5 linked regions of the Homo sapiens genome follow. The protein of the gene in region 1 interacts with the protein of each later gene in a pairwise test. Each region holds a gene or a part of one and is shown in the gene's direction. Other genes may lie near its edges. The genes, in order: PKP2, SMAD9, EIF4ENIF1, PIBF1 and RBM5.

Region 1 (6,212 bases):
AACCCTGTGACGTAGACATTATTATCCCACATTGCAACTTAGGGAAAAACAAATAGAGACATTAAGTAGCTTGCTCAGGCCATAGAGCTGTAAAGTAGCAGAACCAGGACTGAAACTACAGCACTCTGGCTTTAGATGAACGCTGAGCTCTCCACAGTATGCTGTGTGCTTGAACCACAGTCAAAAGGAAAGTGTTCAGGCCTGTGAGCAAAAGGTATGTCTTACCTGTCAATCAGGTCCAGGTATTATGATGACATATCATTCAGTGCCTTTTATTGAGTACTTGTCCATTTCAGGAATAATGATCAACGCTGTAAACACAGAAATAAGTAAGATAATTGGCTTCAAGGAACCCACAGCCTCATCTGAAGTTGAGACAGTCACACAATTCATTACTATCAGTATCATAGAGAGAGAAATGTGCTTCAAGATGCCACATGAACACAGATGAAGGCACACAATAAAATTAGGCAGTATTTGTTAATTGCTGATAAACACAACACGTATTCAGAAGCTGTGGGGATCAGCAAAAGCAAAAGATGCATGCTCTCTATCTTTTAAGAAGAGTCTAAAGTGGTTAGAGGAAAAAGAGGAAAACATACATGAAAATAACTATTACAAAAAGTTTAAGCACAAGTTCACATTGACCAAAATATGTACCATAGGACAAGTTCCAGTGGATTTATCAAATATTAACACCTTTTAAGAATTTTCAATAGATTTTTGGGTACAGGTGGTGTTCAGTTACATGCAAAAGTTATTTAGTGATTATTTCTGAAATGTTGGTGCACATGTCACCTGAGCAGTGTACACTGTACCCAATGTGTAGTCTTTTATCCCTCACCCCTTCCTACCTTTCCCCCAAGTCCCCAAAATCCATTATATAACTCTTGTTCCTTTGCATCCTCATAGCTTAGCTCTCACTTATAAGTGAGAACATCCAATATTTGGTTTTCCATTCCTGAGTTATTTCACTTAGAATAGTGGTCTCTAATTCCATCCAATTTGCCGCAAAGGCCATTATGTCTTTCTTTTTAATGGCTGAGTAGTATTCCATGGTGTGTATATACCACATTTCCTGTATCCACTCGTTGGTTGATGGGCATTTAGGTTGGCTCCATATTTTGCAATTGTGAATTGTGCTGCTATAAACATGCATGTACAAGTGTCTTTTTCATATAATGACTTCTTTTCCTTTGGGTAGATACCCAGTAGTGGTATTGCTGGATCAAATGGTAGTTCTACTTTTAGTTCTTTAAGGAATCTCTATACTGTTTTCCATAGTGGTTGTACTAGTTTACATTCCCACCAGCAGTGTAGAAGTGTTCCCTTTTCACCATATCCATGCCAACATCTATTAAATTTTGATTTTTAAATTATGGTCATTCTTGCAGGAGTAAGGTGGTATCTCATTGTGCTTTTAATTTGCATTTCCATGATAATTAGTGATGTTGAGCATTTTTTCATATGTATGAGGCGTATCAAAAAATTTTTCTTATGCCATTTGTATATCTTCTTTTGAGAATTGTCTATTCATGTCCTTAGCCCACTTTTTGATGGAATTATTTGGCTTTTTTCTTGCTTTTTTGAGATCCTTGTAGATTCTGGATATTAGTCCTTTGTCGAATGCAGTTTGTGAATATTTTCTCCCACTCTGTGGGGTGTCTGTTTACTCTGCTGATTATTTATTTTGCTGTGCAGAAGCTTTTTAGTTTAATTGGATCCCATTTACTTATTTTTGGTTTTGTTGCATTTGCTTTTGGGTTCTTGGTCATGAACTCTTTGCCTAAGCCAATGTCTAGAAGAGTTTTTCCAGTGTTATCTTCTAGAATTTTTATGGTTTCAGGTCTCAGATTTAATCTTTGATCCATCTTGAGTTGATTTTTGTATAAAGTGAGAGATGAGGATCCAGCTTTATTCTTTTACATGTGGCTTGCCAATTATCCCAGCATCATTTGTTGAATATGTTGAATAGGGTGGCCTTTCCCCACTTAATGTTTTTGTTTGCTTTGTCAAAGATCAGTTGGCTGTAAGTATTTTGCTTTATTTCTGGGTTTTCTATTCTATTCCATTGGTCTATGTATCTTTTTTATTTTCTATAGCCTAATTGTGAAAGTGGCATGTCTATTTTTTTAATACCTTTCTTGTTAGTACAAAAAAAAAAAGCCAAACTCAAAACTTATAACCAAGAAGTTATATACATAGTAGAAAAGTACATTTAAAATAGTTTATTTCTCTTTTTAAAATAGTAGGCCAGGCGCAGTGGCTCACGCCTGTAATCCCAGCAGTTTGGGAGGCTGAGGCGGGCAGATCACCTGAGGTCAGGAGTTCGAGACCAGCCTCAACATGGAGAAACCCCATCTCTACTGAAAAAAAAAATATACAAAAAATTAGCCGGGCATGGTGGTGCGTACCTGTAATCCTAGCTACTCGGGAGGCTGAGGCAGGAGAATTGCTTGAACCTGGGAGGCGGAGGTTGCAGTGAGATGAGATCGTGCCATTGCACTCCAGCCTGGGCAACAAGAGCGAAACTCCATCTCCAAAAAAAAAAAAAAAACAAGAGTAGTATTACTTATGTATTGGAAAAACCTTGGGAAGCAAAGATTATTCGTTTATTATTTATTTACTATTTAATTTTACTTTTTAAAATAGAGACGGGGTCTCATTATATTTTCCAGACTGGTCTCAAACTCCTGGGCTCAAGTGATCCTCCTGTCTCGGCCTTCTAAAGTGCTGGGATTACAGACATGAGCTACCTTGCCTGGCCTTAAAAATGATTTTAGCTTGGCCAGGCGCGGTAGCTCACGCTTCTAATCCCAGCACTTTGGGAGGCCCAGGCGGGCGGATCACAAGATCAGGAGATCAAGATCATCCTGGCTAACAAGGTGAAACCCCGTCTCTACTAAAAATACAAAAAAATTAGCCCGGCGTGGTGGCGGGCACCTGTAATCCCAGCTACTCGGGAGGCTGAGGCAGGAGAATGGCATGAACCCGGGAGGCGGAGCTTGCAGAGAGCCGAGATCGCGCCACTGCACTCCAGCCTGGGTGACAGAGCAAGACTCTGTTTCAAAAAAAAAAAAAGATTTTAGTTCACTATTAATATTGTTGTAGAAAAACAGCTCCTATTAACATTTTTCCTCAGGTTTCTTACGTGGGTTTTTTGGTAATAGTATGTATTCTTTTTTTTTTTTTTTTTGAGACAGGGTCTCTCTCTGTTGCCCAGGCTGGAGAATAGTGGCGTGATCTCTGCCCACTGCCACTTCTGCCTCCCAAGCTCAAGCAATTCTTGTGCCTCAGCCTCCTGAGTAGCAGGGACTACAGGCACAGGCATGTGCCACTACGCCCAGCTAATTTTTGTATTTTTAATAGAGACAGGGTTTCACCATGTTGGCCAGGCTGGTCCTGAACTCCTGACCTTAAGTGATCCACCCACCTCAGCCTCCCAAAGTGCTGGGATTACAGGTGTGAGCCACCGAACCTGGCCAATAATATTATGTATTATTTATATAAATATACTGATTTTTCACATACACTATTAACATAATTATTTTCTTTTTATTATACATGCTTCATAGATAGGTTTTGTGATGAATAATAGTCTTTGCAGGTGTGTTTTAGTTAATCATAGTCCTATTATAAGGATATTCAGGCTTTTTAGTTTTTCAGTTACATGTAGTACTGTCATAAAGATCTCTGTAGAAAGCTTTTTTCATTTTCAAAGTGATATTTTTAAGATGTATTCCTAGACATGGAATTACCGAATTGAAGAAGATGAAAATGTTTTAAGTTCTTGACATTTCTGCCAAATTACACTCTGAAAAGATTTTCAATATACTGAGCACAGAGTATCCTCTTTTCAAATATTTTTAAAAATTTGTTATTAGGGAAATTACATCTTTCCATGTGTTGTTAACCAGCTGTGTTTCTTTTTAAGAAAGTTCTTGGCCGGGCGCAGTGTCTCACGCCTGTAATCCCAGCACTTTGGGAGGCCGAGGCTGGCGGATCACGAGGTCAGGAGATCGAGACCATCCTGGCTAACACGGTGAAACTCCGTCTCTACTGAAAATAAAAAAAAATAAAAAAATAAAAAAATTAGCCAGGCGTGGTGGCGGGTGCCTGTAGTCCCAACTACTCGGGAGGCTGAGGCAAGAGAATGGCGTGAACCCGGGAGGCAGAGCTTGCAGTGAGCCAAGATGGTGCCACTGCACTCCAGCCTGGGCAACAGAGCAAGATTCCGTCTCAAAAAAAGAAAAAGAATGTTCTTCACCCAAAATATATTGGGATCTTGGGATTAAGAAACAATCTTTTTAATCAAGTGTTTTGTTTTTTTTTTCATTTTGTAGCCAAAGAAACTCTCCCTGATTTGGTTTCCATCATTCCTGACACAGTCCCGAGTACTGACCTTCTCATTGAAACTACAGCCTCTGCCTGTTACACATTGAACAACATAATCCAAAACAGTTACCAGAATGCACGCGACCTTCTAAACACCGGGGGCATCCAGAAAATTATGGCCATTAGTGCAGGCGATGCGTAAGTCCTTCAGTTCTGCCCGTCAGCTGCCTCCCTTTCCCCTCACCAGCCTGTGTGTAAATAATCCGGTTGTGAATGTGCGGTCATGACCATCATGTGCAACATGGCAGCAAACAGGATGTAAAGCCAGGCCAGATCATCTGGTCAGCCCTCAGTGATCAGCCAAGGAAAGAACTGAATCCACCACACCACATGCTTGTCCCTTCTCTTCTAAAGTATCAACAGAGGGTCAGACTCCAGAACTTCTCTTGGTTGTGCATTCCAGCATTGTATTGGCCTAATGAATTAGTTTCCCAAAGCCACAGCTGTGATTTAATAACAGCAGAATGTAGGCAAAGCAGGAGTCCTCTGAATAGGCAAGTGCCCTTTTCCTCACTTCCATCTTAGGAGGGGATGTCACACCAGGTGGTTTAGAAGAAGCAGTGATGGGCTGGGCACAGTGGCTCATGCCTGTAATCCCAGCACTTTGGGAGGCCCAAGCAGATGGATCACTTGAGGTCAGAAGTTCGAGACCAGCCTGGCCGACATGGCAAAACCCTGTCTCTAGTAAAAATACAAAAATTAGCTGGGTGTGGTGGTGCGTGTCTGTAATTCTAGCTACTTGGAAGACTGAGGTTTGAGAATCACTTGAGCCCAGGAGGCAGAGGTTGCAATGAGCCGTGATCGTGCCACTGCACTCCAGCCTGGTTGACAGAGTGAGATTCTGTCTCAAAAAAGAAAAAAAAAAAAAAGCAGCAGCAGCAGTGATGACACAGGAGAAGCAGTCAGGGGGTAGCCTGATGAGAAAGTCTTGCTTTCACAGTTTTTTCTCTGTCTTATCTCTTCCGCATCTTATTCCCTTTTGATAATAGAAGGTCCAATGCATGTCATTCCACATCTGTGTTCCTGTTTTCAACTTTTCCCTATTAAAAAAAAAAAGGAGGAGAATGAAAAACCTTGTATAACCAAATTATTTACTATTAGTTAATTTAGAGTGATGAGATTGGAAAGGGGCATGAAGATTATCTTTTTCTCTTTATACAATTCTGAATTGTTTGACTTATTACAAATAGATATGTTACTTTTGTAAATAACCAAACAAGAAAAGAAATGGCTATGATAGCCTAGTTTTAATGAGTTACAAAGCAGATGACTTCACCTGTACTGAAGAAATGTGTGCTTGGCTGTACAGGGATGTACATGTTACCTCTACTACAGCCCCACCCAATTTAGGCCCCTTCTGCTCTGCAGCCCCACTCTGCAGTGCACACAAGGAAGGAAGACTGCATTTAGAGTCAGATTAAAACAAGCCCTGAGCACTGGCTGGAGTGTCAGTTCCCCAAGAATATTCACCCATCCCCAGAGGCTGGCAGATAGTATTAGAGTTGCTCAGTCTTTGTGGAAAGAGTGAATTACTGTTGCAAAACAGAAATGACTTTTCTTCCAAATAGTCATCCAAACTTCCAAGCAAATCACCGTAAGATAGTATGATGCTCATTATTCGAGTATTCAGACATAACAATTGTTGCACATGGCAATATGCAATTACTTTTGGAAACTTCTGGTAGCTTAGCAAGATAAGGGGTGAGCTACTCTGTTACTTGTTTATTTCCGAGTGTCCACTTGTGAGTCCTCACATGCCCTGTCTCAAAAACAAAAGTTAACAAGGAGCTTCTTGCCAGTGGTGTCTGCTGCTCTTT
Region 2 (6,212 bases), on another chromosome or scaffold:
TGGTACTCTGATTAGCTGATTCACTGGTGGGGATTATTTTTATGTGAATTTCCCCTTGGGGAAATTTAATACTTAATATCTGATCACTTCCTTTTCTTTTTCATATTTAATTCTGAGGGACTATAAATAGAAAACATGTACTCCTCAGTCCCGAGGAGAGTTTGGTGCTGCAGTTGCGAAAAGCAATCTTCAGTTTACAAGCACTAGGAGTGCCAGGGATGCCCATTCATTCTAGGACTCCAGTTGCCAGTTTTCTATCACTGAACAAAGGAATCTGGATAGCATACATGTGGTCTTGCGGCCATTCAAACGTGTTGGTGACATTGGGGATTCTGAGTTGAGGATTCTGACGACTTAGAGTTTGCAAGTAGTAGAAGTGTGAACACTGTGAGGTAGCCACATCCTGAACTCACTGACCCCAGGAGCACATCCCTAGATACACTGGGCCATTTGCCTTAAATGACTGCTTTAATCTATGGAATATCTTCTTCCATACAGCCTGTTTTTTACTTTTCATCTGTTAAAGTGCTTAGAAGCCTATCAAATACAGATTTACTTTGGTTACTGTGTATTTTGATTTGTTTTCACAAAACGCAATAATTGTGCAATGGTTAATGTCATTCTAAAGGATTTTGTCCTACGTACTTGTGGGCTATGGAAAGCTTACAGCAGATTTGCAGGTCTTTTTTAAGAAGCATTTGATGGATGGTAGCGTTCAACTGAAGTGCCAGGAGTTGCTTTCTGAATTCTTGTATCTAAATTTAACTGACTTGGTAGTACCACATTTCAGGAGTTAATGGTAACGCAGAAAGGGATTCACAGATTCCATCAGTTTCCCACTTTGTGGCAGAATATTTGACATCTCTTATCAGTACACTTCATCATAAGTTCATGAATTCATCTTGCTCCTTTCTTTGCTGAGAATCACAGTGAGAGAATTGGAGTTTGGCTGAGAGGAGGAGTGAGGAAGGAAGAAGGAAGAGTAAGTTTTTTTTTGTTTTGTTTTTGTTTTTTGAGATGGAGTCTCTCTCTGTCGCCCAGGCTGGAGTGCAGTGGCACCATCTCGGCTCACTGCAAGCTCCACCTCCCGGGTTCATGCCATTCTCCCGCTTCAGCCTCCCAAGTAGCTGGGACTACAGGCACCTGCCACCACGCCCGGCTAATTTTTTGTATTTTTAGTAGAGACAGGGTTTCACCATGTTAGCCAGGATGGTCTCGATCTCCTGACCTCATGATCCGCCGGCCTCGGCCTCCCAAAGTGCTGGGTTTACAGGCGTGATCCACCGCGCCTGGCCCGAGAGTAAGTCATTTTAAGGCTTGGGCAGTAGCACTGTTGAGAAGTTTGAGGCACCTAAGTGTGGAAAGAGGGTGTTACAGAAAGCAGATTGGCAGATGCCAAAGGTAGACATCACATATTTGAATTAGTGTTAGTAGTATGAAAGGCACCTGCGTTGTGAGTTGAGAGGATCCTAGTGAGCTGGCCAGGGAAGTACATTAGCACTCATGACATTGTTCTAGGGGAAGGTGAATTCCAGTTTCCAAATAACTATGCAGGATTGAACACCATTTGTTCATAAAGCAAGACCACCAGTGATTGATGATATGGGTGATTATTATTAATGACATAAGTGATTATTAGAAGCCAAGAATGGTGGTAATGAATGTGGAAGATGAAAAATGTGTTAAGCTAAAAAGATTTTAGGTCTCATGTGGTTTTCTTTGTCTTGTTTATGCATTTAGTCATTCTTTGTTTTCTAGTGGAAGTAGAATTTTATTTTTAGGAATAGGAGTTGAATAAAATATTTGTCAAAGACAAACATTTATGGACATGAATGCTTCCCTTTCAGCTTATTGACTATATGTTTACACAAAGCAGTCATTAGGTGTTGGCTGTGTTTGCAAATAATGACAAGTTGGTATTATTTCAAAGGAGTGGCAGTTTTACTTGCTTTCTGTTGTCATTGCATCTAATTTTATTACAAGATATTCTAAATACACTTTATTTTTTTAAAGTTGTATTGATTATATCTTGGGGTTTTAAAGTGTTGCAATTTTGTGGGTGTAGCAATCACTTTAGAAGGTGGAACTTGTAAATTTATGGGGCTTGTATAGGATATTCATTCAACCATTATTTACTCTGTGTCTATTGTGTCTACCCTGCCTATGAGGCCCCAGAACAGGCCCTGGGGACTACACAACGAAATGAAGTGACAAAAATAAAATCCTAGTCTCCAGGATTTCATAGTGTAGTTAGCGTGAAAGAGATCAAGAAAGCAAATATTAAAATATTTCTCCAATAGTAAGATGTCTTACTTCCCCAAACTGTAATCTATTTGGGTTTATTTCTCTATTCAGCTGGCCCTGTGAGTCAGCAGTTTCTGCATCAACAGATTCAACCAACCACAAATGAAAAATATTGGAGAAAAAATTAAAAATAACACAAATAAAAAATAAGATATAAAAACCATTTACATAGCATTTACAGTATAGTAGGTATTATAAGTAAGCTAAGATGATTTAAAGTATAAGGGAGGATGTGGTAGGTTATATGCAAATATACCATTTTATACGAGGGACTTGAGCATCCTTGGATTTTGGTGTCTGTGGGGATTCTGGACTGAATCCCCCATAGATACCTGGGGATGACTGTATTTTTCCTGATTAGACTTCCGTATTTTCTGTGTGTGAATTTTTAGTTAGTCTTGTCAAGGATAATGAGAATGATCTCATTTGGGATTTGGGAGGTAAACTAGAAGGTAGAGGTAAAATAGAAGACATAAACAGGAAGAGATTCTTTCAGTAAGTCCTTATGAGAACTTAGAGATGCTGAGAACATCCCTAGGCCATGGAATTTCACTACTTCCTGAGTCTGTCAGGAGGAGGATCCAGCCTTTGTACAGTTTCCTCCTGTTTTTCCCTGCTACCCTTTACTGGTTCAAGGGTGAGTGAGTTTGCATGGCTGGTCCTATAGGAAACCCCACCCAACCCTTTTAGCCAGCCAGGGGCCTCCAGACCACTTTGAATACACTCTTCTAGTAACTGTTGTAATAGTGCACCTATTACTTGCCTGATAATAATATGTTTAGATTGCTGTCTCAATAGTAGTATAGAGGAAAGGGACCATGTCTTATCTTGAAATATTCAGCTGCTAGGGTAGTGTCCACTTCATTGTTGATACTTGAACCACTCCACCTTTCACTTCCCTAAATATGTTGGGTTTTCAACGATCCCACCTTTCTCTTCCCTAAATAGGTTGGTTTTTGTAGGGTAAGGTGGAAGGAAGGGCAAGGAATTTGGATTTAATCTGTAGGCAAAGGAGAACTATTCAATTTTAACCCGTAGTCATGATAACTATTAAATGGTTTGAACAGAAGAATCACATAATCAAAGGGGTATTTGGAAGAGTGAAGACAAATTCAAGTGGTTTGCATGCTTTTAAATGGCCACAACTCCTAGCTAAGCAGTTGACACACCATCTCCACTGCTTCATGCTTCTCTTTAGCAAATAAAAATCTGAGCTTCCCCGACTGGGTGCGGTGGCTCACACCTGCAATCCCAGCACTTCGGGAGGCTGAGGTGGGCGGATAACCTGAGGTTGGGAGTTCAAGACCAGCCTGACCAACATGGAGAAACCCCATCTCTACTAAAAATACAAAATTAGCTGGGTGTGGTGGCACATGCCTGTAATCCCAGCTACTGGGGAGGCTGAGGCAGGAGAATCGCTTGAACCCAGGAGGCAGAGGTTGCAGTGAGCTGAGATTGTGCCATTGTACTCCGTCCTGGGAAACAAGAGCAAAACTCTGTCTCAAAAAATAAAAAATAAAAAATAAATTGAGCTTCCCCGAACAGCAGTTCATAACACGGCTTATTTGTGATTCTTTATCAGTTTATGAACTCCACCCGCCCCCCCCCCCCCCAGGCAGCCTTTGGCCGGGAAACAGCCTTCCTCGAGACACACATCTATAAAATTTTAAAAATTGCCCACACATCATTAAAAATATATATATTAAACAGATGATTTATAGTCATTTAATACTTTACAAGTATTCAGACAGATTATGCTCTATATAATATTACCTTAAGTAGATAGACTATGCATAGGAAGTAGGGAATGCATTATATAATTCTGTCTTTCAAAGAAATTTATTGTATTGCGTTAGTAAAGCAATGGGCTTTAGGTTAGAACTTCAATTAATTACATGGGGCTTAATGATACAATAGTTGGCCAGGTGCAATGGTTCATGCCTGTAATCCCAGCACTTTGGGAGACCAAGGGGGGCAGATTGCTTGAGCCCAGGAGTTTGAGACCAGCCTGGACAACATGGTGAAAACCCTTCTATGAGAAAAATATTTTAAAAATTTAGCTGGTCTTGGTGGGGCGTGCCTGTAGCCCCAGATACTCAGGAGGCTGCAGGGGGAGGATCTATTGAGCCTGGCAGGTTGAGGCTGCGGTGAGCCATGATCACGCCACTGCACTCCATCCTGGGTGACAGAGCAAGACCCTTTTTCAAAATAGTAATAATAATATTAATAATACAATAGTTAATGGTATTGATAAAACTGGATTTTACTTTCATTCATTCAACATTTATTGATGGCCTCCTGCATGCTAGGTAGGTAGTACAGACCACAATGTGGCTTGGCTTGTGGCCTGATAGAAGGCTAGGCATCTCTGGAGAAAACACTTACCAAATCTGGGGATTCAAGTGTGGTAAGTGCTGTTGTGAGTGACTAGCACATGTTAGGTGCTGTGGAAGCCCAGAGGAGCAGCAGAGAGCTGATCAGTGCTGTTGCCTGGGGGCCTCCAGGGAAGGTTTCCAGGAAGTTGGCTTCCAGCTCTGTTTTGAAGAAGGAGCAGGAAAGATAGAGCTGCACAGGGGCCTTCTGGGCAGGGAGGGAAGGAGTGATGGGCAAAGGGAGTGAAAAGAGATGAGGCTGGGAATGTAGTCTGGGGAGGCCAGATTGCGAACAGCCTTATTTGAAATTGATGTTACAGGCGTCAACTCACAACCCCCACCTCATGATATTTAGTGGGCTTTTAAGTGTAAAATGTATGGATACAGACTCAGAGTAGAAATTTGGGAGATTCACTCTTGGTGGTGTACATTCTGTGGGTTTGGACAAGTGTATCATGACGTGTATCCACCATGGTAGTATCAGGCAGAGTCGTCTCATTGCCCTGCAAATTCTCTGTGGTCTGTGTTTTCATCCCTCCCTCTTCTCATATTCACTATGGTTCCATCTCTACATTTGAACATAGTGTATTTGAGGATCCTGGAGTCAATGGTGGTTAAATTTTAGTTTAAAGAGCTTGTTTTTAATTTTTTTTTTTTTTTGAGACGGAGTCTCGCTGTGTCCCCCACGCCGGAGTACAGTGGCGCGATCTCGGCTCACTGCAAGCTCTGCCTCCCCGGTTCATGCCATTCTCCTGCCTCAGCCTCCTGAGTAGCTGGGACTACAGGCGCCCGCCACCACGCCCGGATAATTTTTTGTATTTTTAGTAGAGATGGGGTTTCACCGTGTTAGCCAGGATGGTCTCGATCTCCTGACCTCGTGATCCACCCGCCTCGGCCTCCCAAAATGCTGGGATTACAGGCGTGAGCCACTGCGCCCAGCCGGTTGTTTTTAATTTTTGGGGCACCTCTTAACTCCCACAGTGAAGCCTACAGGAGGAATAAACAGAAGTATACCTCCATGTTGGTAATATACAATATTATCTTAGTTTACAGTTTTCAAACTGCTTTCTCTCACATCCCCTCAGTACTTCTGCACAAAAGGTAGTGACTATTGTTTCCATTTTACAGAGGAGGAAACAATATGGAAGTGACTAATTACTTGAAGATGACAGTGATGGTACTAGCACTCAGACTGGAGTCTTCTTCCTCCATTCTTGTGTTTTATTCATTATATCATGTTGCCTCTTGCTTCTGGAAGCATTAAATTGTGGGCCCTTCCAAACTTAAATAATAAAATAACACATTTGTGGGGTGGCATACAGTGTTTCCAAGAATATGCTGACTATATGTGTGTGTAAATTATATACAGTTTATTACGTATGTGTAAAGAATGTAGGTTGCAATACTAGAAACTTACACCATGATCTCTACAAGGTAGTGCTGGCCTTCTCTTGTATCACTGTTATGTTGGCTTATCACTGAAATGTTTAAATATGATCTTAATATTCAGACTATTACATGGAAAAATATAGAACA
Region 3 (6,212 bases), on another chromosome or scaffold:
CTGCTGATAAGCCCAATTTTAGTGGTGACTCTCTTCCAACCATCCCCTTCCTCCCATCAGTCATGGACATACTATCTAAAAAAGAAGAAAACACCCTTGTTGGTTTGTTTAACTTTGTCTTTCCCACGTCCTTCCAGATCCACGAGAGCGTGTGAAAGAAGATGACTTAGATGTTGTTCTCAGCCCTCAGAGACGGAGCTTTGGAGGGGGCTGCCACGTGACAGCCGCTGTTAGCTCCCGGCGCTCAGGAAGTCCATTAGAGAAAGATAGTGATGGGCTTCGTCTGCTTGGTGGACGTAGGATTGGCAGTGGGAGGATAATCTCTGCCCGGACCTTTGAGAAGGATCACCGTCTTAGCGATAAGGACCTGCGGGACTTGAGAGACAGAGACCGAGAGAGGGACTTCAAGGACAAGCGTTTCAGGGTTTGTCTTTTTTTTTTTTTTTTTTTTTTAAATTGAGACGGAGTTTCGCTCTTGTTGCCCAGGCTGGAGTGCAATGGCACGATCTTGACTCACTGCTGCCTCAGCCCAGTATCTGGGATTATAGGCACGCACCACCATACCCGGCTAACTTTTTATATTTTTAGTAGAGACGGGGTTTCTCCATGTTAGTCAGGCTGGTCTCTCAAGCTCCCAACCTTAGGTGATCGGCCTGCCTCGGCCTCCCAAAGTGCTGGGATTACAGGCGTGAGCCACCACACCCGACCTGGGTTTGTCTTCTAGATTCTTTGGTAGTTCATGTGCTTGGGGACTTGATATTCACTTTTTTTATACCAGGTTACTTTGAGAACAGGCATGAACACAGCCTGCTCTTAAACCAGTCAGGGAGGAAGGGGTGGGGGTGGTGATGGGCCTCAGGTATACAGCATCATATCTTCCTTTCACTATTGAACATTACAACGAAGACCTTGACTGAAGTAGAAATGGCTTGACTAGAAATTTTTTAATCTTGCTTTATGTACTTTTCCAGAGAGAGTTTGGAGATAGTAAGCGTGTCTTTGGTGAGCGTAGAAGAAATGATTCTTACACAGAAGAAGAACCAGAGTGGTTCTCTGCTGGACCCACAAGTCAGTCTGAAACCATCGAACTGACTGGCTTTGATGATAAGATACTAGAAGAAGATCACAAAGGGAGAAAAAGAACAAGGCGACGGACAGCCTCTGTGAAGGAAGGTCAGTTCAAACTTTGGGAGGGAAGTTCGCTGTTTTAAAATGAGATGTAGGCTGGGCGTGGTGGCTCACACCTGTAATCCCAACACTTTGGGAGGCCGAGGTGGGCGGATCACCTGAGGTCAGGAGTTTGAGACCAGCCTGGCCAACATGGTGAAACCCCGTCTCCACAAAAATTCAAAAATTAGTGGGGTGTGGTGGCTGGTGCCTGTAGTCCCAGCTACTCGGGAGGCTGAGGCACAAGAATTGCTTGAACCTGGGAGGCAGAGGTTGCAGTGAGCTATCACACCACTGCACTCCAGCCTGGGTGACAGAGCAAGACTGTCTCAAAAATAAAATAGAGATGTGATTATCACTGGCTAATTGTACACTTAGGAATGGGCACCAGATGTATAGGAAATGGCAAGTTTTTCATGATGCATCCTGATTTTGAAATCTTTTTTTTTTTTTGAGACGGAGTCTCGCTCAGTTGCCCGGGCTGGAGTGCAGTGGCACCATCTCAGCTCACTGCAGCCTCCATTTCCTTGGTTCAAGCGATTCTTCCCTGCCTCAGCCTCCCGAGTAGCTGGGATTACAGGTGCCTGCCATGACGCCTGGGTAATTTTTTCTATTTTTAGTAGAGATGGGGTTTCACCATGTTGCCCAGGCTGGTCTCGAACTCCTGACCTCAGGTGATCACCCGCCTCGGCATCCCAAAGTGCTGGGATTATAGGTGTGAGCCACCATGCCCAGCCCCTGCAACTGCTTAAGTGAGGATTCACTAAGTGTAGATCATACTGTTTCCCTAACTCGTTCTGCCTGCCACACTAAACAGAAAAGTCTGAAGTTATCCTGTAAGAGGACTGTGTACATGAAAGAGTTCCCCAGAAATAAGAAACGTGGTAGAAAAATGAGAGGTCTCATTTATTGAGCAATTATGTCCTAAACACAGTGGTGAGTGTATTTTGTCTGTGTAATCCTTCATCTCCTAATGACCTTGTGCAGTGTAGGTACTTTTTTATGCCCATTTCATAGATGAGCAAATGGAGGCTCAGAGGGCTTAAGTAACTCAAGGACACTTAAGGTAGTCACCATGGAAATAAGTAGTGAAGTCAAGAGTAAAGCAAGATGCTTCTGGGCATCAGAGCCTACCTTCTTCATCATGGTATTAGGCCTTCCCAGGTCAGTTGTTTGTGATTTGCCTTCTCTCAAACTTAGTTTCAGGATGAGTACGGTGGCTCACGCCTGTGATCCCAGCACTTTGGGAGGCCAAGGCGGGTGGATCATTTGAGGTCAGGAGTTTGAGACCAGCCTGGCCAACATGGTGAAACCCTGTCTATATTGAAAATACAAAAATTAGCTGGGTGTGTTGACGCATGCCTGTACTCCCGGCTACTGGAGAGGCTGAGGCAGGAGAATTGCTTGAATCCAGGAGACAGGTTGCAGCGAGATTGTGCTACTGCACTCCAGCCTGGGAGACAGAGTTGAGACTCTGTCTCCAAAAAAACCAAAAAAACCTAGTTTCCTCAGCTGTAAGATGGGGTCAGATATCTCCCTTGCTAAACTGAAGGAGCCAGAGCTAATGTGTGTGAAGTACCTGCTGCAGAGTGGGAGCCCATTGGTCTGCAGCCAATCATTTTTTAGGGCAGTGACCTGGCTCTAAGGTGGCCAGTCCCAGGCTGATGGTCTTGGGAAGGAGGCACTGTAGAGCCAGGTGGGGACTAACCTGGGTTAAAGTACTAGGGCTCCTGCTTAGAAAAGGATAATTTTTGACAAAATTTTGACAGCTGGGCCTGTTTCTTTGTAAAGGGAAGAACAATGCCTATCATAACTTAAGGGTTACCTTTAGCATTGAAGAACACATGTACCCATCAGAACTCAGCCTCCAAGAAGGCACTCAGTAAATTCTACCTGCCTCAAGCTTTCAGGCTTAGTTGAAAGCCTTTTGGCAGATACTAGGCAACAAAAGGGGAAAGCCTTTTTTTTTGTTTTTTGTTTGTTTGTTTGTTTTGAGATGGAGTCTTGCTTTGTTGCCTAGGCTGGAGTGCAGTGGCACGATCTTAGCTCACGGCAAACTCCGCCTCCGGGTTCACGCCATTCTCCTGCCTCAGCCTCCCGAGTAGCTGGGACTACAGGCGCCCACCACCACGCCCAGCTAAATTTTTGTATTTTTAGTAGAGATGGGGTTTCACTATGTTAGCCAGGATGGTCTCGATCTCCTGACCTCGTGATCCACCCGCCTCAGCCTCCCAAAGTACTGGGATTACAGGCGTGAGCCACTGCGCCAGTCCTCTATTTTTTTTTTTAATTAATTTTCTTTTTTTTTTGAGACGGAGTCTCGCTCTGTCACCCAGGCTGGAGTGCAGTGGTGCGATCTTGGCTCACTGCAAGCTCCGCCTCCCAGGGTCAAGCAATTCTGCCTCAGCCTCCGGAGTAGCGGAACTACAGGCGCGTGCCAACACACCCAGCTAATTTTTTGTATTTTTAGTAGAGATGGTGTTTCACCGTGTTAGCCAGGATGGTCTCAATCTCCTGACCTCATGATCCACCTGCCTCAGCCTCCCAAAGTGCTGAGATTATAGGCGTGAACCACTGCGCCTGGTCTGGGAAAGCTATTTTAATAAATAAGGGAAAAATCAGTGCCACCTTAACATTTTGATGAAGACAAATATAAGCAGAAATAAGCTGATGGCATTTATTTAGAAGGAGAAGGAAATGGAGAATCAAAATACTCATCTTCTTTTGTAGTCTTCAAAATATAGTACATATTACCATTATCTTTGTGCTATCACACAGTGTTCCCTAGGATAATGTAAGAAATTGATAGGTAACTTGGAAGACTTTGCTATTAAATTGGCTTTGAGATATGTCTTTGTCTCATTCTTAATTAAAGCAGCACCCAATAAAGCACCACTTTAACGATAAAGATCAGGCTTCTGGTGAGAAAAAATTATGTTTTTCTTAAGTGAGGTGAAATCTGAATTTCAACCATTCTTGTATCAAGTGCAGGAGTCAGGAGTGAGATAGATTGGTAGTGGCACCTCCTTATTTTACAGATGCAGAGAGAAATTGAGACCTGGAGAGAAGGGATGGATTTCATGGCAGAGCCTGGAGTAGAATCCAGGGGTCTTGGTTCATCCCATTAGCTAACTACAGAATGTCTCTAGGTTGCCCTTGCTATGTATTTAAAATAAATAAAAACATTAAAAACTAAGATGTCAGATGCCTTAAATGTTAGCATCTGGCAGTTTCACTTTGTCTCCCCATCCTAAAAACAACTGAACATTGTAGAGTATACCTGGCACTACAGAGTAAGACAAAGCTGGTTAGACCAGGTTCCCTACCCTCAGAGTTTAGCCTCACCAGAGAGTTACTATTATACAGTGTGACAAGTACTCAGAGATGACATAAGGATTATAGAGAAGGTAGCAATTAATTTTACTAGGTAGGGCAAAAATGGGTAGGCAGGGCAAGCTTCCCAGAGAAGGTCACATTTGAATTTCGCCTTGAAGGATGAGCTACAACAACCAACCTGTAGGCAAGTGAAAATTGCCCTCATGCCAGGTTTCTCATAAATACCTTAGGTTGCTGAGCCCTGACTGAAAGTGGTGCTACAGGTGCATGGGCAGAAGCAGAGCTAAATTAATTTGGTTCCATTTTTAAGCAGTAAGAGACTTGCAAAGACTATCCTTTAAAAAAAAAATCACTAGAAAAAGAACTAGGCATGGTGCTGGACACAGTGGCTCACTACTGTAATCCTAGCACTTTGGGAGGCCAAGGCAGGAGGATCACTTGAGGTCAGCAGTTTAAGTCCAGGCTGTGCAATTTAGCGAGACTCAGTCTCTACAAAAAATTAAAAAATTATCCAGGCATGGTGGTGTGCACCTGTGGTCCCAGATACTCTGGAGGCTAAGGCAGGAGGATCACCTGAGCCCAGGAGGTAGAGACTACAGTGAGCTGTGATCGTGCCACTACTCTCCAGCCTGTGCAACAGAGCAAGACCCCATCTCAAAAAAAAAAAAAAAAAAAAGACCCCCCTCCACTATAGAAAATATGAAGTTCCCACGAAGGGAACCATAATCCTCCCCACATCCCATTGGTATTCTAGCTTTATTAAGGCTTTTTTCCTTTTCTGCCTCCCGTAGAAGGGGGACTGTTTTATTCTTGCAAGTACAGTACCTGCACGAGAAGTCTGCTTTTTAAGTCATGTGTGGCTCTTCTACATGTATACTGATGGCTGAAGCCACAGAGGGACACTGGAGTGATTTACTTATCAGACGGTTTTTGTCCTGGTTTTGCTTTCAGGTATAGTAGAGTGCAATGGAGGAGTGGCCGAAGAGGATGAAGTGGAGGTCATCCTTGCACAGGAGCCTGCGGCTGATCAGGAAGTGCCAAGGGATGCTGTCTTGCCTGAGCAGTCCCCAGGAGACTTTGACTTTAATGAGTTCTTTAACCTTGATAAGGTGCCATGCTTGGCTTCGGTGAGTGTAGCAGCACACTTAAAAAATGTGTGGTTAAATTTGACCTGAGTATTTAAGACATCGGTTTGAAAGTGTTGTTTTGCTAGATGCTTTTGGGGTTTTTGGCTTTTATTCTTACATATTTAAATTTTTGTTGGCTTTGTTTTGAGAGGCTTAATGGATAATATGAGATTTTTGTACCAGTTAACTCTTTTTTAAGCTGGTGGTGTTAGACTAAAAATTCTTTTTTTGTTGTTTTTTTTTTTTTGAGTTGGAATCTTACTCTGTCACCCAGGCTGAAGTGCAGTGGCACGATCTTGGCTCATTGCAACCTCCGTCTCCTGGGTTCAAGCGATTCTTCTGCCTCAGCCTCCTGAGTAGTTGGGATCACAGGTGTGTGCCACCATGCCCAGCTAATTTTTGTATTTTTAGTAGAGATGGGGTTTCACTATGTTGGCCAGACGGGTCTTGAACTCCTGACCTTGTGATCCTCCTGTCTTGGTCTCCCAAAGTGCTGGGATTACAGGCGTGAGCCACCGCACCTGGCTTTTTAAAGTTATTTTTAGAATTCCTGTTTATCACTAAGATGCTTATATTTTGGAT
Region 4 (6,212 bases), on another chromosome or scaffold:
AAGCCAGGTGATGAAAATGTATCAAGGAAAGAAAGTGACTTGTGTCAAGCTCTATCATTAGATCATGGAGGAAAAGAACTAAGAATTGATCATTTGCAATTTAGATGTCATTGAGATTTCATTGGAGACAGTAAAAATATGATCGCCATGGGTTTAAGAGGAAAGGATTTGGAGACAATAATTATAGACAACTTTTGAGCAAGCTTGCTCCAAAGGGGTGGCTAACAAAGGGGGAAGTGCAGTGAAGTCCAGAGTTGTGGTTTTGTTTGTTCATTTGTTGTAAGATTGAAATAACAGCATGTGTGTCTGTTAATGGGATTGATATAGTAGGGAAGGGGAAAATCAGTAATATGATTTGGCTGTGTCCCCACCCAAATCTCATCTTGAATTATAGCTCCCATAATTCCTACATGTCATGGGAGGGACCTGATGGGAGGTAACTGAATCATGGAGGTGGTCTTTCCCATGCTGTTCTCATGATAGTGAATAAGTCTCACAAGATCTGATGGTTTTATAAATGGGAGTTCCCCTGCACAAGCACTCTTGTCTGCCACCATGTAAGACATGCCTTTGCTTCTCTTTTGCCTTCCGCCATGATTGTGAGGCCTCCCCTGCCATGTGGAAGTCTGAGTCCAGTAAACCTCTTTCCTTTATAAATTACCCAGTCTTGGGTATGTCTTTATTAGTAGCATGAGAGCAGACTAATAACATCAGATTGTCCCTTCCTGATCAGAATCTTTCAGTAGGCAACTAACAATAATGTCTGCTACATGTATTCTTTGAGAATGATGAGTATGTGCAGATTACTGTTTTCATTACCTCATTGGTTGAGTGAATACCTTATGGTGGTTCAGTGTTACCATCTTAAAGAGATATCCTTGAAGTATCAGGATAAAAGGGAAATGAAAATTACTTTAATAAGTAGAGTCCTTGATGTTTAACATTAAACCTTAAGCAGAAGAAATATATAATTTTATAATTTGAATTTCTAAAATTATTCTTTAAGAATATCAATTCTCTGTTTAATAATTTATATGGTTACACATTTAATAATTAGTATGGAATTGTCATTTCATATTTAACTGATTAATATGAGTAAATAAGTATTTAGCTGGAGTAAGTAAATAATACTGTCAGGTTTCTGATTTCCTAACTTTATGTTGATATAAATAGGAAACTGTGAGAAAATTAGATCTCAAATACTTTTTTAAAGCCTGCCATAAATTCTCTTCTAATGTAGCAAATATCAAGAATTAATGAAACAAGAAATGGAAACCATTTTGTTGAGACAGAAACAACTAGAAGAGACAAATCTTCAGCTAAGAGAAAAAGCTGGAGATGTTCGTCGAAACCTGCGTGACTTTGAGTTGACAGAAGAGCAATATATTAAATTAAAAGCTTTTCCTGAAGATCAGCTTTCTATTCCTGAATATGTATCTGTAAGTATCTTATATCTATTTTTAACTATGACATATATTTTCAGACTAAAATTTACCATTTATATAGTAGCAATTACTTTTGAAGTACCCAATTGATACATTATTTTATGGCTATGGATGGTGAATGGTGTTGAGATCCAAATTTTAAAGGATCATGACCATTGATCTCCAAAGTCAAGCAATAAATAGGTTTCTGAAGTTAATGACTGCATAGTCCATAGAAATGAATTATCGTAAACTGGTGGTTTCTTACATTCTCAAAATGAAAAATTATAAACAACAGAGTAGTTGTTGCCAGGGGTTGGTTGGGGATAGTGGGAGAGAGGAGTCAGCGTGGTTATAAAGGGATAGGATGAGAAAGAACTTTGTGGTGAGAGATTGGCGCAAGATCTTGATTGCAGTGCTGGTTACACAAATCTAGAACACCTAGGATTAATCTATGGCAGTGGTCTCAAATATTTTGGTGTCAGCATTCATTTACATTCTAAAAGTTATTGAGGACCCCAATGAGTGTTTGTTTATATGGGCTGTATCTATTAATATTTACCATACTAGAATTTTAAACTAACAACTTTTTTAAACACAAGAATAAGCACACAATTCCATTGGCCTTAAGAGTGATAATGTCATATGTCATGTAGCCACTGGCAAACTCCACTGAACAGTCATGAGAGAATGAGAATGAAACGGGGAAAAAAAATCTTAATAATTACTAGGAAAGTCGTTTTGATCTTGTGAATTCCCTGAAAGGATCTCAGAGTGGCGAGTGGGGCAGAGTCCAGGAGTCCCAAAACCATATGTTGAGAACTGCTGCTTTTTAATATGTAGATGTCATTTTACCCTGAGAGGCTTGAATTTTTTAATCCCTAAAAAGGGTTAATAGTAACGGTGCGTTTCTATTGGGGATAATTGTAAAGACTATAACTATGTATGTAAAATGCTTGTGAGCATAGTGCTTAGAAGATAGTAAACACATAAAAATGTTGTCTATTGTTTTTGCTGGAGTGGTGGTTGCTATTCTTGGTTCTCATTGGGAAAAGATTTGCAGATTAGTGATGTCTGATAAAATGAAGTTACTTTTTTGTTCAGCTGTTTTTTTTTTTTTTTTAAAAGGCTCAAATACAGCTTTTCTGTCCAAAGTATACTGTCCAAAACAAATTAAATATCTCAAATTCTGTTTTTGAGGCTTCATTTACAGTAGATATAAAGTATCACACTGGTGGCAGTTACACATATTTTTGCTGTTTGTTTTCTTAATATTCCTTCTTACATCTTTTGTTTTCACAGACAATATTATCCTTAACTAATTAATTATATGCAGATTCTTTTTGTTGAGGGCTAGTATTAAGATTTGCCTCTTACCAAATAATGGTATTCTTGTAATACCGTCATATGTTAAGGAGTTTCAGATTGCATGCCTATATGATAGCCCCTAATTACTCTCTCCTAATTTGCTGTGATGATTTCTTAGTTTTATGGGACCTTGTCAGATGGAACACTTTACTGAGCTAGGGTAGGAAAATTTCTCTGAGACAAGTATGAGTGGAAAGAGAGACCTGAACTAAATGGAAGTAATGATGTGAAAGATACCTCTTGATTCATTCTGATTAGACTTCCACTGTAGGGACAGCAGTAAATAAAGCTTTGCCAAGAGCCTGGGATGAAAATAAAGAATACACTTTACCTCTTCATCAAGTATTTATTGAGTGCTTATCATATATTTAGGCATTGGAAATACAGCGGTGTATAAACCAGACAAAAATCCCTGCCCTCAGGTTGTGAAAGTGGAGCAACACAGGCAATAACTTAAAAATTAAATATGTAGAATATCTGTTTGTCAAAGGTGCTACAGAGAAAAGAGCAGGGGTGAAAAATAGGGAGTGCTACTTAAAATTAGGTAAAGAAATCAGGGAGGGCTTTACTAACAAGGTAATATTTGGTCAGAGACCTATAGGGAGACAAGGCATGAGCCATGCATTTATATGGGGGAAGAACTTCTCTAGCAGAAGAAACAGCAAGAGCAAGACTCCTGAACATTTGTGATATGTTCCAGAAGTTTACAAGCACCTAGTGTGGAGTGAGCAGTAGTAGATGAGTAGTAATGGAGTGTCAGTAGAAGGGAGGAAATACTGTCAAAGGTAAGAGGTTATAAATCATCTGGCCCTTGAGGGAAGTTAATTGAACATTAAGGCTTGATAGAAAGTATTAGTGGCTAGGGTCCATTAATGACTGTCTTGTTGTAGTTTTGTAAATATTTATCTTTATTACTGATAAGTGAGAGCACTACAAATTACAAATTTTAATTGTAATTTGGATTTAAGACTGCTTATTAATTTAATTTTTTTCAAGGTTCGCTTCTATGAGCTAGTGAATCCATTAAGAAAGGAAATCTGTGAACTACAAGTGAAAAAGAATATCCTAGCAGAAGAATTAAGTACAAACAAAAACCAACTGAAGCAGCTGACAGAGGTTTGTATGGTTTTGATTGCTGGTGGGAAGAAGCTTCGGCTTTTTCTGTAGAGTCCCTCAGGATTTGTGATAAGGCATATAAAAGTCAGTGATTGAAAAATGGGACTATGGGATGGTGACTGCTACAGTTCAATAATGGGAAGGAGGTTAAATTGGAAGTAGTCATCTTAAACATTGACAAGACAAGTCTGTGTTATTGACGTATCCTATAGTTGAGCTTTTATTGTTGCAAGTCAATTTTATAATCAACTGCTTTTGAAATCCTAATATGGGCTATATCTGAAAATTGCTGTGTATCCTTAGATGACGCATATGCATGTATTTATTTAGTAATTTGTCTCTATTTTTAACATCACTTTGTCAGGAAATTTAAGCAAGAAACAAGAAATGTAGGCCAAGCTATGCAGGGGATCTCTTGCAGGTGCCATAAGAAAGAAGAAAAGGAGAATATTTTTACTTTGAACTAAGTTGACTCGTAGGTTCTGGTTTGCCTAAGACTGTTGCCATTATTCCTGTGAATAAATATTAATAGCACCCCTTTATTTTCAAAATTATCTCAGCCTAGACGATGAATATAGTAATCATAAATCAACATTTATATAGAAGGGTGGACTAATCATTAACTTGGTTGTATTATTGACCAGATATCCTAGAATACTATCTTGTAGTTATAGTCTACTAACAAAAAAATAATGGTAGATTGATTCATTCTACCATGTAACAGTTGGAAATGGGTGGCTGTTTTTCTTCAAATATTTCGTTATTCTAAAAGGAAAACACTTCTAGTTTACAAATGGGGGCTGCTGCAGTTCTTCATTACAAGTTAGCCTTGTTCGTGATATGAGATGGAGCTACTGTCCATTTATTACTTACGTGGCTTCTTTGTGAAGTGCAGTTAACTCTCATAATATTTATTCTGAGCATGTGTACTGATACTAGCATTAACCCCAGTGGTGTGCATGGTGCTGTGCTAGGTGCTGGCAGTGAACCCAAGAGAGGCAATGCCTGCCCTTCTAGAGTTTACTTTCTAGCAGGTTAGGATTAGAACGTTAGGTGATATTTTGACACTCTCATTTACTGTGTGACCATGACCAGGTCATTTAATGTTTCCTGTTCTGTCAAATGGAGAAAATAATACTGTTTGTTCATTTATTTAATTGCATTGCCTATATTTCTGTTTCAGAGTAAAAACATGATTTTAGCAAAGTTGCATACAAACATTTATGTCCTATTTTAAGGGCAGTTTTTGTCAATGATATTATCCAGAAATAAATAATTATAATTTAATTTGTATTTTTAATGCTCTACTTTGCTGTACTATTAGTCTTAGAGATAATTTACTTAAGTCTTGCCATAGAACCAATATTTCAGACAAAATAAGAAGGCTTAGCTTCCTCTCCTCTGAGGAGCAGTGACATCAGCAGGAGCAATTAGAGGGGCAGATGTGCCCCCACTCCAAACTTCAGTTGTTTTCTTTTCTTCTCCTAGCATGTCATATTGTGCAGGTAAACTGTTTTGCACATTTAGAAAGATAGTTCAATTAAAAAAAAAATTCAACTGTAGTCAAAATAGTAGAGAACAGAGAAGGCCACTGTTTGGCCACTTTCTAATTTTGCAGCCTTGGGCAAATCATTTATACTCTATTGTTTCTGTAAAATGCCCAGGATGGTTTTGGTGGTACAGGGGTTATTGGGGAAGAGGCAGTTAGACAAGGTCTTAGCGTTGGTTCTATACACCTTATGGTACCTCAGCATCCCTCAAGGACTTCTTACTGTGTAGTAGGAGGGCTGGAGGAGCTCCCTATCCTTGTTTTTATCAAGCCACCCTTTTTAAAATAACCTTAATATTTGGGACTTCTCAGCATGATTTCTCTTGAACACAGATTCCTCAGGCCATTCTTAGAGTTTGTGGTTTTTCTGCCCTGTCAAGGACCTGGTACAGGTCAACTTGCCAAACACTAGGAAAAAAGTAAATATTTTTAAATAAAAAGCAAAACCAATATCATTAAACAGCTTTATTTATTTATTTAAACAGAGCCTTGCTCAGTCGCCCCAGCTGGAGTGCAGTGGTGCCATGTCTGCTCATTGCAACCTCCACCTCCTGCGTTCAAGTGATTCTCGTGCTTTAGCCTCCCCAGTAGCTGGGCTTACAGGCATGCGCTACCACACCTGGCTAATTTATGTATTTTTAGTAGAGATAGAATTTCGCCATTTTGGCCAGACTGGTCTGGAACTCCTGGCCTCAAGAGATCCACCTGCCTTGGCCTCCCAAAGTGCTGGGATTACAGGCGTGAGCCACTGCACC
Region 5 (6,212 bases), on another chromosome or scaffold:
AGCTCATTTTTAGGGACTTCTGAATTTTTTTCCTTAATGCCTACTAAGTTTGTCTTTGTCTCATTTTGATGTTTTGTAGTCTCAAAGTGGTGAAGGAGGCAGTGTTGACTACAGTTATCTGCAACCAGGTCAAGATGGCTATGCCCAATATGCTCAGGTAGGTAGATTTTAGCAGCATCCACCTTATAGTCTTGCAGAGTGTGTCTGAGAATAGCAGCTTTAATGGTGGACTTTTCTTCAGTATTCACAGGATTATCAGCAGTTTTATCAACAACAAGCTGGAGGATTGGAATCTGATGCATCATCTGCATCAGGTAGTAAACTTCATCTCCCTTTTACCTTTTGTTTAAGCACTTACAGTTGAAGAAATATGATTAAATGTCCTAACTGGACCAAAAGCTACAAGTCCATTTCTCTGTAAGATTGTAGGGGGCATGGCCGGGCACGGTGGCTCACGCCTGTAATCCCAGCACTTTGGGAGGCCAAGGCAGGTGGATCACGAGGTCAGGAGTTCAAGACCAGCCTGGCCAACATGGTGAAACCCCATCTCAGCTAAAACTACAGAAATTAGCCAGGTGCGGTGGCAGGCGCCTGTAATCCCAGCTACTCAGGAGGCTGAGGCAGGAGAATTGCTTGAACCCGAGCGGCAGAGATTGCAGTGAGCTGAGATTGCGCCACTGCACTCCAGCCTGGGCGACAGAGTGAGATTCTGTCTCAGAAAGAAAAAAAAAAGAATGTAGGGGGCATATTCAGGGCTGTCATCATGTACCCAAGGTTCTGGGGAAGAATACGGTTATTTGTGTACACCAGGAGTTAATACAAGGTCTTAGAGACCATGTTGTGATGAGTTTAATTCTTGGAATTCAACTCTGTATTTCCCCTCTCTGTGTTTGGAGTCGTGAGTGCCCACGTAAGTTCAGGTGAGCAGAGAGGATGTGGCCCTGGAGACTGGTGCTCAGACATCAATCAGAAGAGCTACTCTAAGAAGCCTTGGCTTTAATTTTTGTTTCAGGCTTTAAAAAGCCTTGTGAGTTAAATCTTTCTCAACCCCAGAGCAAATATAGATCCTTTCTTCTCTTCCTTTTCTCTTCTTTTTTTTTTGAGACGGAGTCTCGCTCTGTTGCCCAGGCTGGAGTGCGGTGGCGTTATCTCGGTTCACTGTGAGCTCTGCCTCCCAGGTTCACGCCATTCTCCTGCCTTAGCCTCACAAGTAGCTGGAACTACAGGTGCCTGCCACCACTCCCGGCTAATTTTTTGTATTTTTAGTAGAGACGGGGTTTCACCGTGTTAGCCAGGATGGTCTCAATCTCCTGACCTCGTGATCGGCTCGCCTTTTCCTTCCAAAGTGCTGGGATTACAGGCCTGAGCCACTGCACCCGGCCTCTTCTCTTTTTCTTAGCCATGATACAGAATCCTTAACTTTGTATATCACATCTAGTAGAATTATAAGAAAATGAAAATGTCACAGATTCCAGGGTACTTAGTGGAAGTTAGCTTATGAAGAACTGACATATACAATGACAGAAGAAGGCTAGATTGGGCATTACAAATAAAGATGTTTGGGTTGGCGTTCAGTGCCTTGGCTTTCCCTAACACTTGTGTTTATCATCAGGCACAGCAGTGACCACCACCTCAGCGGCTGTAGTGTCCCAGAGTCCTCAGCTGTATAATCAAACCTCCAATCCACCTGGCTCTCCGGTAATCCTGTTGTCCTATATACAAAACTCGTGGCTGATGGGGAAATTTTGTTTTGCTATACAAGTATTACCCTTTCCTGTTGTATGAGCCAGGATTGAGTAATACACACTTCAACCTTATTTCTTTCTGTTGTTTTAAAATATTAATTTTATGATATATATGTGCATGTATATTTTAAATATAAAATTTCAACTGTGTATTTACACTTTATGCATGCTTGACCTTTAGAAAGTTGTCGCCGGGGCCGGGTGTGGTGGCTCGCGCCTGTAATCCCAGCACTTTGGGAGGCCGAGGCGGGTGGATCACGAGGTTAGGAGATCAAGACCATCCTGGCTAACACGGTGAAACCCCGTCTCTACTAAAAATACAAAAATTAGCCGGGCGTGGTGGCACATGCCTGTAATCCCAGCTACTCGGGAGGCTGAGGCAGGAGAATTGCTTGAACCCCGGAGACGGAGGTTGCAGTGAGCCAAGATTGCGCCACTGCAGTCCAGTTTGGGCAACAGAGCAAGACTCCTCTTGAAAAAGAAAGCAAAAAAGTTGTCAACATGTGTTTTGCTGAGGGATTGCCTTAGATTATTGCTACAGTGTGTCTGTCAGGGGAGCCCTTCCTCCTGGATGATTGCAGTGATTTAGCTCTCTTAAAAGGCTTTACAGTTGAAATTATATTGAAGCTGCTGTTCTTTCCAGACTGAGGAAGCACAGCCTAGCACTAGCACAAGTACACAGGCCCCAGCCGCTTCCCCTACTGGTGTAGTTCCTGGTACCAAATATGGTAAGCCAAACCTCATGGGGCTGTTGACAGTTGGAAGGTCTTAGTTGTTGTCTTTGTTTAATGAGAGTTCTTCTCCCTTTGCGGGTGTCAGAGGGACACTTGGGGATGTGAGACAGAGAAGAAACATTAGGCCTGCTGCATCTCACTGGCTTAGAATTTGAAATAAAGCCAATTTCTTACCTGGAATGACTGTATGCTGGATTTTGTTTTTGCAGCAGTACCTGACACGTCCACTTACCAGTATGATGAATCTTCAGGATATTACTATGATCCGACAACAGGGCTCTATTATGACCCCAACTCGCAAGTAAATGTGCTGCTTTCCTCCTCAATTTCACTAGAAGTAGTTTCGCTTAGTGCATTTATGAGGCATAAAATGAAATATTTCCTGCAAAAGAATATATGACTCAGATTAGTTTTAACTTCTTCAAAGCCACCAAAATGTAATTTTTATATGGAGATTGTAAGTTTTAATTGTAGGGTTAAAAAATGTTTTGAGGTATAATATACACACAAAAAAATACACAAAACAGAAATGTGCAATTCTTTGAATGTTTATACATGTCTATACATTTGTATATTACATGTGTATATACACCACCACTTATTCCCAGCCCACCTAATCCTCATGCCCATTGCTGGTCAGTAACCTATGTCTTCAATAACCACTATTTTGATTTCTGTTGCCATAGATTATTTTGTCAAGTTACAATTTATGGAAAGACCTAGCTAGAAATTTTAAATTGTACTTTTCTCCCTATTGTTTAACCTTTTAGAGTGTACAAATCAGTGGCTTTTAATATATTCACAGTGTTGTGTAACTGTCACCACTGTCTAATCTCAGAACATTTTCATCACTCGAAGAAGAAACCCTGTACCTGTTAAACAGTCACTCCCCATTCTGTACTCTCCTCCAGTAACTACTAATCTACTCTCTGTCTCTATGGATTTGCTTTTTTTATTTTTTTTGTGGCACGATCTTGGCTCACTGCAGCCTCCACCTCCTGGGTTCAAGCAATGCTCCTGCCTCAGCCTGCTGAGTAGCTGGTAGCTGGGATTACAGGCGCCCACCACACCCAGCTAATTTTTGTAGTCGAGACAGGGTTTCACCTTGTTTGCCAGGCTGGTCTCGAACTCCTGACCTTAAGTGATCCACCCGCCTCAGCCTCCAAAGTGCCAGGATTACAGGCATGAGCCACTGTGCCCAGCCCTCTGTTCTTGACATTTCATATAAGTGGAGTCAGACAATAGATTACCTTTTGTGTCCAGCATCCTTTACTTTGCCTCCCTGTGTATTCTTGAGGGTAGAATTTAGCAGATGTATGGAGTGATGTTTTATTTTTGGTGGCATATATAACTTTTAAAAGGGAAAAACAACTTTAACACCCCATAAATAACTCTATTTATGACCGGGAGCTGTATATATAGAACAGTAATAAGTATTTTTAACAGGAACTTGGCATTGATAGGTTGTGGTTTCTGAGAGATTGAAGTGTGAAGCTGTGTGTGACGTGCCTAAGCAGGCCAAGCCTCTGCATACCTCTTCCATCCACTTCTCTCATTTGTGAAGCCTGGCCATTTATTTCCCTGTCAGTTCTTTTTTTTTTTTTTTTTTTTTCCCGTCAGTTCTCTTTGGTGGCCTTAGAAGTTGTGTCTGTAGGCTGGGCGCAGTGGCTCACGCCTGTAATCCCAGCACTTTGGGAGGCCAAGATGGGAGGATCACTAGGTCAGGAGATTGAGACCATCCTGGCTAACACAGTGAAACCCCGTCTCTACTAAAAAAAAAAAAAAAATACAAAAAAATTAGCCAAGCGTGGTGTCGAATGCCTGTAGTCCCAGCTACTCGGGAGGCTGAGGCAGGAGAATGGCGTGAACCCGGGAGGTGGAGCTGGCAGTAAGCGAATGTCGCGCCACTGCACTCCAGCCTGGGTGACGGAGCGAGACTCTGTCTAAAAAAAAAAAAAAAAAAAAAAAAAAAAAAGTTGTGTCTGTTAGCCACGCCACCTTACCCAGAAGAGACAGACACTGTCTCCTGGGTCCCTGTTGAGCAGATAGAGTGAGCGACTGGAAAATAGAGGAGAGGATATGTGACACCTCTCCTCTGTTGCAATTCCTGCTGAGCTTGGGTCCCTTCACCAACACCTCCTTCCAGCTCTGTGCTAGTGTTTACACCCTGTGTGTGGTTGCCTGGTATCCAATGGATTCTATGTGGATGGGCCCAATGATGAGCTGTTGTCATGGCAGATGTCTGAACTCCATGACACGCCCACCTGTTCTGGCTGCCTGGTTTATGTAAATAGTCTGTGGAACAGAGTGAGACAAATTGCTCTTTGGGTGCCCTCTAGGTAGGCCCAGGGATTAAATTAATGGGAACTAGACTTTTTAAATTTTTATTATCATTTTTTTTGAGATGGAGTCTTACTCTGTTGCCCAGACTGGAGTGCAGTGGCATGATCTTGGCTCACTGCCACCTCCTCCATCTCCCAGGTTCAAGCAGTTCTCTTGCCTCAGCCTCCTGAGTAGCTGGGATTACAGGTGTGCCATCATGCCCAGCTAATTTTTGTATTTTTAGTAGAGATGAGTTATCACCATGTTGGCCAGGCTGGTCTTGAACTCCTGACCTTGGGTGATCTGCCCACCACCACCTCCCAAAGTGCTAGGATTACGGGCATGAGCCACTGCTCCCGGCTGGGAACTAAACTTTTTAAAGAAATCATATTCTATTTTTACTCTAGCAGTGTCACACCTCTTTGCTAGGTGGTTCATCACCTTTACTTATACCAAGGTGTGCCCAGGGTCTTTTCTGGGCAGGAAATATCACTAGTCCACAACATACTTTATCTTTTTTTTGACAAAATATGTAATCGACTGACATAGCAGAAAGTCTGCATTAATTGTTTTTTGTTTGTTGTTTTCTAGTACTACTATAATTCCTTGACCCAGCAGTACCTTTACTGGGATGGGGAAAAAGAGACCTACGTGCCAGCTGCAGAGTCTAGCTCCCACCAGCAGTCGGGCCTGCCTCCTGCAAAAGAGGGGAAAGAGAAGAAGGAGAAACCCAAGAGCAAAACAGCCCAGCAGGTTAGAACATGACCCATATTTCTTTCATTGAGGTATTGGGCTGAACTCTTAGTTTTGGGGTTGTAGCATTTATGTCAGTATTATTTGGATTCTTAAAAATTGGGCTTCACATTTTATTCATACTAAGTTCTTAGAGCATTTTGCAATTTGTTATTGTTACCATATCTTGACTGTCAGCCTGTGTACTTAGGGAAAAAAGCCCTGGAAATCTCAAAGCTTTTCAAGCAGTATTTATGAATGACTTTGGTTATATGTGATAACATCTAATGGAAATATTTGTAGGTGGAAGTAAGAGTAAAAGGGGTTTGTTACAGGGCATATAGTTGAGATAAGATCCTTAATGGCTCATTCTCATGGCACAGGGGATTAAATATTTTTTTGTTGGTGTTTGTTGTTTGACATTAGATTGCCAAAGACATGGAACGCTGGGCTAAGAGTTTGAATAAGCAGAAAGAAAACTTTAAAAATAGCTTTCAGCCTGTCAATTCCTTGAGGGAAGAAGAAAGGAGAGAATCTGCTGCAGCAGACGCTGGCTTTGCTCTCTTTGAGAAGAAGGTAATAGCAGGAATGGCCAGTATGTCATGATGGGAACTTACCTAAAACTTGAGTCTCATGGCTTGTCCTCTGTTTCCCAGGGAGCCTTAGCTGAAAGGCAGCA

What was found.
Region 2: the proteins of PKP2 (region 1) and SMAD9 interact in a two-hybrid assay, tested with the Homo sapiens proteins (one large-scale study listed by BioGRID and IntAct).
Region 3: the proteins of PKP2 (region 1) and EIF4ENIF1 interact in a two-hybrid assay, tested with the Homo sapiens proteins (one large-scale study listed by BioGRID).
Region 4: the proteins of PKP2 (region 1) and PIBF1 interact in a two-hybrid assay, tested with the Homo sapiens proteins (one large-scale study listed by BioGRID).
Region 5: the proteins of PKP2 (region 1) and RBM5 interact in a two-hybrid assay, tested with the Homo sapiens proteins (one large-scale study listed by BioGRID).

The regions. Positions count from the first base shown.
Region 1 is NC_000012.12:32,794,430-32,800,641, reverse strand, and holds part of PKP2 (plakophilin-2), read left to right. Parts: intron 1-4,343; coding exon 4,344-4,533; intron 4,534-6,212. UniProt on the Homo sapiens protein: A component of desmosome cell-cell junctions which are required for positive regulation of cellular adhesion.
Region 2 is NC_000013.11:36,909,321-36,915,532, reverse strand, and holds part of SMAD9 (mothers against decapentaplegic homolog 9), read left to right. Parts: intron 1-6,212. UniProt on the Homo sapiens protein: Transcriptional modulator activated by BMP (bone morphogenetic proteins) type 1 receptor kinase. SMAD9 is a receptor-regulated SMAD (R-SMAD).
Region 3 is NC_000022.11:31,457,893-31,464,104, reverse strand, and holds part of EIF4ENIF1 (eukaryotic translation initiation factor 4E transporter), read left to right. Parts: intron 1-137; coding exon 138-424; intron 425-971; coding exon 972-1,173; intron 1,174-5,454; coding exon 5,455-5,630; intron 5,631-6,212. UniProt on the Homo sapiens protein: EIF4E-binding protein that regulates translation and stability of mRNAs in processing bodies (P-bodies). Plays a key role in P-bodies to coordinate the storage of translationally inactive mRNAs in the cytoplasm and prevent their degradation.
Region 4 is NC_000013.11:72,794,119-72,800,330, forward strand, and holds part of PIBF1 (progesterone-induced-blocking factor 1), read left to right. Parts: intron 1-1,240; coding exon 1,241-1,439; intron 1,440-3,788; coding exon 3,789-3,908; intron 3,909-6,212.
Region 5 is NC_000003.12:50,107,991-50,114,202, forward strand, and holds part of RBM5 (RNA-binding protein 5), read left to right. Parts: intron 1-79; coding exon 80-157; intron 158-241; coding exon 242-314; intron 315-1,612; coding exon 1,613-1,698; intron 1,699-2,388; coding exon 2,389-2,473; intron 2,474-2,688; coding exon 2,689-2,780; intron 2,781-5,392; coding exon 5,393-5,554; intron 5,555-5,959; coding exon 5,960-6,109; intron 6,110-6,189; coding exon 6,190-6,212. UniProt on the Homo sapiens protein: Component of the spliceosome A complex. Binds to ssRNA containing the consensus sequence 5'-AGGUAA-3'. Regulates alternative splicing of a number of mRNAs.